Linked DNA regions of Homo sapiens: region 2 is linked to region 1. The links come from fine-mapping of genetic effects on gene expression. Tissue or cell type: monocytes. Region 1 holds a variant in brackets; the other region holds the start of a gene. All regions are shown on one strand. Distances are between the middles of the regions.

Region 1 (5,153 bases):
TCTATCATTGATGGACATTTGGGTTGGTTCCAAGTCTTTGCCATTGTGAATAGTGCAGCAATAAACATACGTGTGCATGTGTCTTTATCGTAGAATGATGTATAATCCTTTTGGTATACACTCAGTAATGGGAAAGCTGGGTCAAATGGTATTTCTAGTTCTAGATCCTTAAGGAATCGCCACACTGTCTTCCACAATGGTTGAACTAATTTACACTCCCAACAATAGTGTAAAAGCATTCCTATTTTTCCACAACCTCTCCAGCATCTGTTGTTTCCTGACTTTCTAATGATTGCCTTTCTAACTGGAGTGAGATGGTATCTCATTGTGGTTTTGATTTGCATTTCTCTAATGACCAGTTATAATGAGCATTTTTTCATATGTCTGTTGGCTGCATAAATGTCTTCTTTTGAGAAGTGTCTGTCCATATCCTTTGCCCATTTTTTGATGGGGTTGTTTGCTTTTTTCTTGTAAATTTGTTTAAGTTCTTTGTAGATTCTGGATATTAGCCCTTTGTCAGATAGACATATTGCAAAAAATTTCTCTCATTCTGTAGGTTGCCTGTTCACTCTGATAATAGTTTCTTTTGCTGTGCAGAAGCCCTTCAGTTCAACTAGATCCAATTTGTCAATTTTGGCTTTTGTTACCATTGCTTTTGGTGTTTTAGACATGAAGTATTTGCCCATGCCTATGTCCTGAATTGTATTGCCTAGGTTTTCTTCTAGGATTTTTACAGTCCTAGGTCTTACATTTAAGTCTTTGATCCATCTTGAGTTGATTTTTGTATAAGGCGTAAGGAAGGGGTCCAGTTTCAGTTTTCTGCATATGGCTACCCAGTTTTCCCAACACTATTTATTAAATAGGGAATCTTTTCCCTATTGCTTGTGTGTGTCAGTTTTGTCAAAGATCAGATGGTGGTAGATGTGTGGTGTTATTTCTGAGGCCTCCGTTCTGTTCCATTGGTCTATATATCTGTTTTGGTACCAGTACCATGCTGTTTTGGTTATTGTAGCCTTGTAGTAAAGTTTGAAGTCAGGTAGTGTGATGCCTCCAGCTTTGTTCTTCTTGCCCAGGACTGTATTGGTTATGCAGGCTCTTTTTTGGTTCCATATGAAATTTAAAGCAGTTTTTTCTAATTCTGTGAAGAAAGTCAGTGGCAGCTTGATGGGGATAGCATTGAATCTATAAATTACTTTGGGCAGTAAGGCCATTTTCATGATATTTATTCTTCCTATCCATGAGCATGGAATGTTTTTCCACTTGTTTGTGTCCTCTATTATTTCCTTGAGCAGTGGTTTGTAGTTCTCCTTGAAGAGGTCCTTCACGTCCCTTGTAAGTTGTATTCCTAGGTATTTATTCTCTGAGTAGCAGTTGTGAATAGGAGTTCACTCATGGCTCTGTGTTTGTCTGTTATTGGTGTATAGGAATGCTCATGATTTTTGCACATTGATTTTGTATCCTGAGACTTTGCTGAAGTTGCTTATCAGCTTAAGGAAATTTGGGGCTGAGATGATGGGGTTTTCTAAATATACAATCATGTCATCTGCAAACAGAGACAATTTGAATTCCTCTCTTCCTACTTGAATACCCCTTATTGCTTTCTCTTGCTTGATGGCCCTGGCCAGAACTTCCAATACTAGGTTGAATCGAAGTGGTGAAAGAGGGCATCCTTGTCTTGTGCTGGTTTTCAAAGGGAATGCTTCCAGTTTTTGCCCATTCAGTATGATATTGGCTATGGGTTTGTCATAAATAGCTCTTATTATGTTGAGATATGTTCCATCAATATCTAGTTTATTGAGAGTTTTTAGCATGAAAGGCTGTTGAATATTGTTGAAGGCCTTTTCTGCATCTATTGAGATAATCATGTGGTTTTTGTCATTGGTTCTGTTTATGTGATGGATTTTGTTTATTGATTTGCATATGTTGAACCAGACTTGCATCCCAGCGATGAAGCTGACTTGATCGTGGTGGATAAGCTTTTTGATTTGCCAGTATTGTATTGAGGATTTTCACATCAATGTTCATCAGGGATATTGGCCTGAAATTTTCTTTTTTTGTTGTGTCTCTGCCAGGCTTTGGTATCAGGATGATGCTAGCCTCATAAATGAGTTAGGGAGGATTCCCTTTTTTCTCATTGATCAGAATAGTTTCAGAAGGAATGGTACCAGCTCCTCTTTGTACCTCTGGTAGAATACGGCTGTGAATCCATCTGGTCCTCGACTTTTTTTGGTTGGTAGGCTATTAATTATTGCCTCAATTTCAGAACCTGTTATTGGTCTATTCAGAGATTCAACTTCTTCCTGGTTTAGTCTTGGGAGGTTGTATGTGTCCAGGAATTTATCTGCTTCTTCTAGATTTTCTAGTTTATTTGCATACAGGTGTTTATAGTATTCTCTGATGGTAGTTTGTATTTCTGTGGGATTGGTGGTGATATCCCCTTTATCATTTTTATTGCATCTATTTGATTCTTCCCTCTTTTATCCTTTATTAGTCTTGCTAGAGGGCTATTTTGTTGATCTTTTCAAAAAACCAGCTCCTGCATTCATTAATTTTTGAAGGTTTTTTTTGTGTCTCTATCTCCTTCAGTTCTGCTCTGATCTTAGTTATTTCTCGTCTTCTGCTAGCTTTTGAATATGTTTGCTCTTGCTTCTCTAGTTCTTTTAATTGTGATGTTAGGATGTCGATTTTAGATCTCTCCTGCTTTCTCTTGTGGGCATTTAGTGCTATAAATTTCCCTCTACACACTGCTTTAAATGTGTCCCAGAGATTCTGGTACATTGTGTCTTTGTTCTAGTTGGTTTCAAAGAACGTGTTTAT[T/C]TCTGCCTTCATTTCATTATTTACCCAGTAGTCATTCAGGAGCAGGTTGTTCAGTTTCCATGTAGTTGTGTGGTTTTGAGTGTGATTCTTAACCCTGAGTTCTAATTTGATTGCACTGTGGTCTGAGAGACAGTTTGTTGTGATTTCTGTTCGTTTATATTTGCTGAGTGTTTTACTTCCAATTATGTGGTCAATTTTAGAATAAGTGTATGGTGGTGCTGAGAAGAATGTATATTCTGTTGATTTAGGGTGGAGAGTTCTGTAGATGTCTATTAGGTCCACTTGGTCCAGAGCTGAGTTCAAGTCCTGGATATCCTTGCTCATTTTCTGTCTTGTTGATCTAATATTGACAGTAGGGTGTTAAAGTCTCCCACTATTATTGTGTGGGAGTCTAAGTCTCTTTGTAGGTCTCCAAGAACTTGCTTTATGAATCTGGGTGCTCCTGTATTGGGTGCATATATATTTAGGATAGTTAGCTCTTCTTGTTGAATTGATCCCTTTACCATTATGTAATGGCCTTGTCTCTTTCGATCTTTGTTGGTTTAAAGTCTGTTTTATCAGAGACCAGGATTGCAACCCCTGCTTTTTTTTTGCTTTGCATTTGCTTGATAGATCTTCCTCCATTCCTTTATTTCAAGCCTGATGTGTGTCTCTGCACGTGAGATGAGTCTCCTCAATACAGTATACCACTGAGTCTTGACTCTTCATCCAATTTGCCAGTCTGTGTCTTTTAATTGGGGCATTTAGCCCATTTACATTTAAGGTTAATATTGTTATGTGTGAATTTGATCCTGTCATTTTGATGTTAGCTGGTTATTTCACCTGTTAATTGATGCAGTTTCTTCTTAGCATTGATGGTCTTTACAATTTGGCCTGTTTTTGCAGTGGCTGGTACCAGTTGTTCCTATCCATGTTTAGTGCTTCCTTCAGAAGCTCTTGTAAGGCAGGCCTGGTGGTGACAAAATCTCTCAGCATTTGCTTGTCTGTAAAGCATTTTATTTCTCCTTCACTTATGAAGCTTAGTTTGGCTGGATATGAAATTCTAGGTTGAGAATTCTTTGCTTTAAGAATGTTGAATATTGGCCCCTAGCCTCTTCTGGTTTGTAGGGTTTCTGCAGAGAGATCCACTGTTAGTCTGATTGGCTTCCCTTTGTGGGTAACCCAACCTTTCTCTCTCACTGCCCTTAACATTTTTTCCTTCATTTCAACCTTGGTGAATCTGATAATTATGTGTCTCGGGTTGCTCTTCTTGAGGAGTATCTCTGTGGTGTTCTCTGTATTTCCTGAATTTGAATGTTGGCCTGCCTTGCTAGGTTGGGGAAGTTCTCCTGCATAATATCCTGAAGAGTGTTTTCTAACTTGGTTCCATTCTCCCTGTCACTTTCAGGTACACCAGTCAAATGTAGATTTGGTCTTTTCACGTAGTCCCATATTTCTTGGAGGTTTTGTTCGTTTCTTTTCACTCTTTTTTCTCTAATCTTGTCTTCTCGCTTTATTTCATTAATTTGATCTTCAATCATTGATATCCTTTCTTCTGCTTGATCGAATCGGCTATTGAAGCTTGTGTTTGCTTCGCGAAGTTCTTGTAGTGTGCTTTCCAGCTCCATCAAGTCATTTAAGCTCTTCTCTACACTGGTAATTCTAGTTAGCCATTCGTGTAATATTTTTTCAAGGTTTTTAGCTTCCTTGCGATGGGTTAGAACATGCTCCTTTAGCTCAGATAAGTTTGTTATTATCAACCTTCTGAAGCCTACTTCTGTCAATTCATCAAATTCATTCTCCATCCAGTTTTGTTCCCTCACTGGAGAGAAGTTGTGTTCCTTTGGAGAAGAGGTGTTCTGTTTTTTGGAATTTTCAGCCTTTCTGCTCTGGTTTCTACACATCTTTGTGGTTTTATCTACCTTTGGTCATTGATGTTGGGACCTACGAATAGGGTTTTGGTGTGGATGTCCTTCTTGTTGATGTTGATGCTATTCCTTTCTGTTTGTTAGTTTTCCTTCTAACAGACAGGCCCCTCAGCTGCAGTTACTTCGCAGTTTGCTGGAGGTCCCCTCCATACCCTGTTTGCCTAGGTATCACCAGTGGAGGCTGCAGAACAGCAAATATTGCTGCCTGATACTTCCTCTGGAAGCTTCATCCCAGAGAGGCACCCGCCTGTATGAGGTGTCTGTCAGCCCCTACTGGGAGGTGTCTCCCAGTCAGGCTACACAGGGGTCAGGGACCCACTTGAGGAGGCAGTGCTTCTGTTCTTGGAGCCCAAACGCCATGCTGGGAGAACCATTGCTGTCTTCAGAGCTGTCAGGCAGGGACGTTTAAGTCTGGAGAAGCTGTCTGCT
Region 2 (5,153 bases), 140 kb after region 1:
TTTGATAGAAGATCTTTGTGATACTATTATTCTGAAGTAGGAATTAATCCTTAATTCCTAGTAACCTTGTGAACAGGAGTCACAAGGATTGTTATATCATAAATTCTTGGCTGGGCGCGGTGGCTCATGCCTGTAATCCCAGCACTTTGGGAGGCTGAGGCGGGTGGATCACGAAGCCAGGAGATCGAGACAATCCTGACTAACACGGTGAAACCCAGTCTGTACTAAAAGTACAAAAAATTTGCCGGGCATGGTGGCGGGCGCTTGTAGTCTCAGCTACTCGGGAGGCTGAGGCAGGAGAATGGCGTGAACCCAGGAGGTGGAGCTTGCAGTGAGCGGAGATCGCGCCACTGCACTCCAACCTGGGCGACAGAGCGCGACTCCGTCTCAAATAATAATAATAATAATAATAAATTCTTGATGTAAGCATAGTAAAGGCAATAATTACTCTTGCTCAGGGATTGCTCATGCCATCTACATACTCTTAATAGACACTCTTGCCCCCAACTTGAGGAAAATCAAACAGGTTATACAACTCATGTGGTCCTTCTTAAGTGTCAACCCACAACTTGGTCATAAATTACAGTAGGCAGGTGACACATACAAGTCACAAATAGTTTTGTCACATCAAATTTTACTTTTGTTCTACTGAAAATAGGTGGCAAACCTGCAGAATAATAAAAGAAAAGAAAAAACAATCAAACTAGCAATTAAATTTATTTTAAAGAAAGAAATAAGTTGGAATTATTTACAATTTAATAATGCTACATGACGGCAGATAGCACACAGTCATAGATTTGTAAAAGGTGCCTGTCACCACACACACAAAAAAAATCACTCACACTGACTATAACTTGTTAAATAAATCATGTCTTTAAGTCATTAATATGATCAACAAATCATCAGGAACACGACAAGGAAAAAGCTGAGCTTCTGTTCTTAATGTGAAATGCAGTCCACCAAAGAGACAACCAAAATAACTAAACAAACCTCTGTGCTGACTGATGGCATTTTCAGACTCCTGAATAAATAGGAAATGTCCAAAGCGCACGCACACACACACACAAAAGGAACAATCCCGAGACAAACCTGGCTGTAAAATAAGTGTGGAAGCAAAATGATAAATTCGGAGGTATTTTTTATTTGAGAGACATCCCGAGTGCTTATATTGCATCACCAGTGAAGGAAAATGAAATGTTACCAGGATCCGAAAAGGAGTCTCTGAACAGGGTGTACACTGAATTCCCCTTTAATAAAAAGAGAGCAGCTCTAAACAAAATTTTTTTTTAACTTCCAGAAAGCCAAATTAAAAACAAAACAAAACAAAACAAAACAAAAGAAAGAAAGAAAAGAAATGGCTTTACCCACAGTCCCATGTCTGGGACAGAGTTCTTCTACCAAGCCATGCAAAGTGTCCAAGACAGAGGCCACCCACCACGCATTCCCAGACTCTTAACCGTGTCACTCCAGAAACCGAGAGGACTTGGATTTCCAGATTGCTAACGTGATCTGAAGGCACTCAGTACACGTTTCTGTCTGGGCAGGACCAGTTGAGCCACTTCTCGCCTTATCAACTTCCAATAATTGCCACACTGTGTGTGCAACCAGTAAGTGAGTGGCACATGGAGTCTGACCTGGCACTCCATTCACACACTTTGTCTGATACTACTTTCATTGTCTGGGCTCTTGTTTTTGGAGAAGAGCTGCCGAAAAGTATCACCTTTTCCTCTATCACTAACCTTTACCTTTACCTCTATCCCTAACATGGGATGCCGAGGTGCAGAGGCACCAGCACTGCCCTGCCATCACTCTAGTGGATACGGACCCGATTAGGCGTCCTTCTTCCTTCTGCCCACACCAAGGCCCCCCAGGCCGCGGCCGCTCACCGGGAACCTTCCCAGGGGAGCGGCGGAGGGGCGAGGCCATGGTGCGGGGACCTGCAAGAGGGCCCTGACCCTGATAGAGAGGGGCCGATGGGCGGCCAGGTGGGCCTGCGGGTTTACCTTGTTGAGGTGAGGGTTCCGTGTCAGCAGGTAGCCGCGCTGATGGGTGTGGCGGCGACGGGGGGCTTCGGGCTCCATGGCTGGCGCCGGGTTCGGCGGCGGGGTCAGGCCGGGGCGGGCCGCACGCGCGGTGCAGGCGGCGGATGCTGCTGGGGTGACGGTGCTGACTGCAGCTGTGGCGGCGGCGGCCGCACTGGGAAAGGCCCAGCGGCTGGGGGCGGGCGTGGGTGGCGAGAGGGGGTGGACGCGTCGGGAGGGGCCCGAGCGAAGCCGGTGTCCCCAGCAGGGCAGCCTGCGAGAAGCGCTGAGTCATGGCAGGAGATCATCCGAGCCGGCGTGTGAGGAGGAGGAGGAAGAGCGAGTCCTGGCAGCGCTGCTGGTGGCGGAGCGGGGGTGGCGGCCGGAGCCCTTGGCTCCATAGGGCCTCTGCCCACCATGGGCTTATGATCACCGCTGTGGTCGCCTCTCTCCATGTGGGCATGCCTAAACGCAGTGCACTGGGTGGCTCTGCTGACCCCAGAGACCCAGGGCGGGGGCAGGGAGCGGGGAGCGTCAGGCCAGGATCCCCCTGCCCGGGAAGGCTGGAGAAAGTGCGAGAAGATGCCAGAAGGTGCGAACCTGAGCGGTTCAGGCAGAGCCGGCGGTCGCTCAGACACCTAGGGGGATTACAGGACGGAAGGACTCGTGAGGGGTCCCCAGAACTGTTGACAGAACACCTCGACAGGCTGAGGAGAATCAGACTCGTCTCTCCTGTCTTGTTAGCGTCTTGGAAGCCCTCTTTCTACAGATCCACAACCTTCGCCGTGCCATCCAGGATGCCGGCCATGCCCGGGGCCCTGAGGCCGGAGGGAACCAACCTTGACCCAGAATGCCGAGGCCCAAGGGAACTGGGAGGAAGCCCAGAGAGGAGAGCTCAGGCGCCACACCTGTCAGTTTCTACAGATTTTCCACCGGAATTGTATTTGAATGTCAATAAGATAAGAGTCAAGGTGTTAGGGTGCAAAGGCCCAATGAACAGTCCTGTTTATCTTGTATATTATTTCTCTGGGAGTTCTAGAAACCTGATGTTCAAGAACCACTGCTCTCTCTGAATAATGATGAGTAAGCAGTCTTTCAGGCCTTCCTCCCAACCTCAGGTGATCCGCCCGCCTCCGCCTTCCAAAGTGCTGGGATTATAGGTGTGAGCCACCGCGCCGGGCCATTTTTTTATTGTTTTATTGATATTTATGCTTGGAGGTTCATGGACTGGAGGAATAGTCAGATCATAGCCAAAAGGAGTGCCTGTCTGATAAAAATAAATTAATAGCAACAGACACTAAAGCCTTCTGTGCCCCAGTTTCCTTTTCAGTTAAATAGGATTGCTAGTTTCTGTCCCATTTGTCTCTGCATACTGATATTACAAAGGATAGTGTTTGAGATTATTTGCTGATTTTATATCTCCATATACTAGACACACATCCAATCACAGTGTTTTCATTTCTAGTTATGTTAACTTTGCCTTATCAGAAAGATTTCTTACAGTAATTGTATTTTGTCCGTATTTACATTTAGAAGCTTCTTTGACCTCGCCTGAATTATCTAGAATTCGTTGTTTTTATAGAGAATATTTTCTAGGCATCACAAAGTTCTTTTTGAAAAAAATCCTTGAAGTTAAATGACACCTTTCATTGTTAATTCTATACTCCATAAATACTCAATCCTACAACATCTAAGAAAAAGGTGTACTTTACACAACTCACTCTCCTGAATTAACTGAGACACATTACAGTTAGGGTGTTTTATGTGAGAGGAAACAGTTTAACAGCTGGCATGGGAGCCAATTCAAGCTGCTTAAGAAGAAACAAAAATGTTAGTACAACAGACCCTTATTATAATAAAGTACTTATTACATGAATTTAGATATACTACCTACCTGTTCCTGTTTCTGAGATTTAATATCTACAGATAGGAAAAGTGTTATAAGTACAGGGAGTAACCCACAAAGAGTATATGGCCTCTCCCTCAAAGGCAACATTACAAGGGGATTACAATATCCTGCCAGTAGTAGGTAAAGTTCACATCTTTCATCTGTATGTTTATTTTAATTATTAAAATAACCGCCGTCATCTTGAATGAAACAGGATAAGGCCTAGCTGAAGAAGCCATTTAGTACATTCATATGTAGTTCCAAGAATACTAGAAAGAACCTATTTTTCTACATAAATGTTAGCTAGAATATCAAAATTTTCAGTCTTTTTTAAATAATAATCTCATAAGGTTAGGTTTTATTTCCAAAAACGTAGGAAAACAGATGCAGAGAAAAAAACTGCTTTAATTTGCCTTGTAACAAACTGTGGTTGCACTGTCACTCTGAAAGCAATTGGTAATGTTAAGAATGGGTATCATTCACAAATTAAGAGACTAAAACATAGATTTCTGTTATACACAGGTGAGAATGCCATCAGTCAAAATCAGATTTTTCTTTCCCAAGTTATAGTTTAGCACACAAAGAGCTTTTACAACATAAAATATGATTGTAATAGATACTCTGATGTAATGTCAGTTGAGATTGCAAGTATAGAAAATTCAGGAAATAACTCTTAGTACATACAGCAATTCTAATATTTTACTTTCATGAGATAAAAAAGATTAATAGAAAAAATACATATCTAGGTGAGGATTTATAATATTAACTAAATGATTCTGTATTTCTTCACACAAAAAGCACACTACTACTATGTCTTCAAAATCTAGTGTGCATTTTATAACACATCTCAATTTAGACACCAAATTTTTATCAGAAATTTGATCTGTATTTCAATTTTATAAAACTTACATTTGCAATAGTAGACTCTCATACCTAACTTGTTGCAAATATACCTTAAAGTTTTCCAATGACTAAATTGAGTATCTGTTTTATATTTAAATTAAAATCAAATACAATTTAAACTGAGTATCTCATTTGCACTGGCCACATTTCAAATGCTTAGTAACATGCCAGTGACCATCGAATTAGAGAGCACAAGTCTAATCCAATGCATTTGGGCCCTTAATTAAATGTTTTAAATAAATAAAGATCAAATATACATACCTGTGTTATTGTAATGTTCATACAGATGTTGTTACATGAATCGCAGAGTAACTCAAGTTATACTACCTTATTAGTTTCAC

Alleles and levels. Positions count from the first base shown, and alleles are read on the strand shown. Sizes are in standard deviations (SD) of each study's normalised expression.
In carriers of allele C in region 1, the expression in monocytes of the gene that starts at base 2,178 in region 2 tends to be lower than with T alone (large effect, 0.85 SD a copy in Fairfax 2014).

Evidence for each region. PIP is the estimated chance that this variant, and not a neighbour inherited with it, causes the effect.
Region 2: it holds the start of ME1, and the variant in region 1 is fine-mapped to the expression of ME1 in monocytes (Fairfax 2014, PIP 0.95).

What each region holds. Positions count from the first base shown.
Region 1 is chr6:83,287,546-83,292,698 of GRCh38, forward strand. All of the region lies in intron 6 of ME1 (malic enzyme 1), which reads right to left. Among named protein-coding and RNA genes, the nearest start is that of RWDD2A, 97 kb to the left of the region's middle. The variant T/C (reference allele first, on the strand shown) is at 2,818.
Region 2 is chr6:83,428,874-83,434,026 of GRCh38, forward strand. ME1 (malic enzyme 1) reads right to left here and starts at 2,178. Exons shown (of 14, transcript NM_002395.6): 1 at 2,004-2,178. The coding sequence starts at 2,081. RefSeq lists enhancers at 1,392-1,661, 2,282-2,451, 2,394-3,593 and a silencer at 1,882-2,071.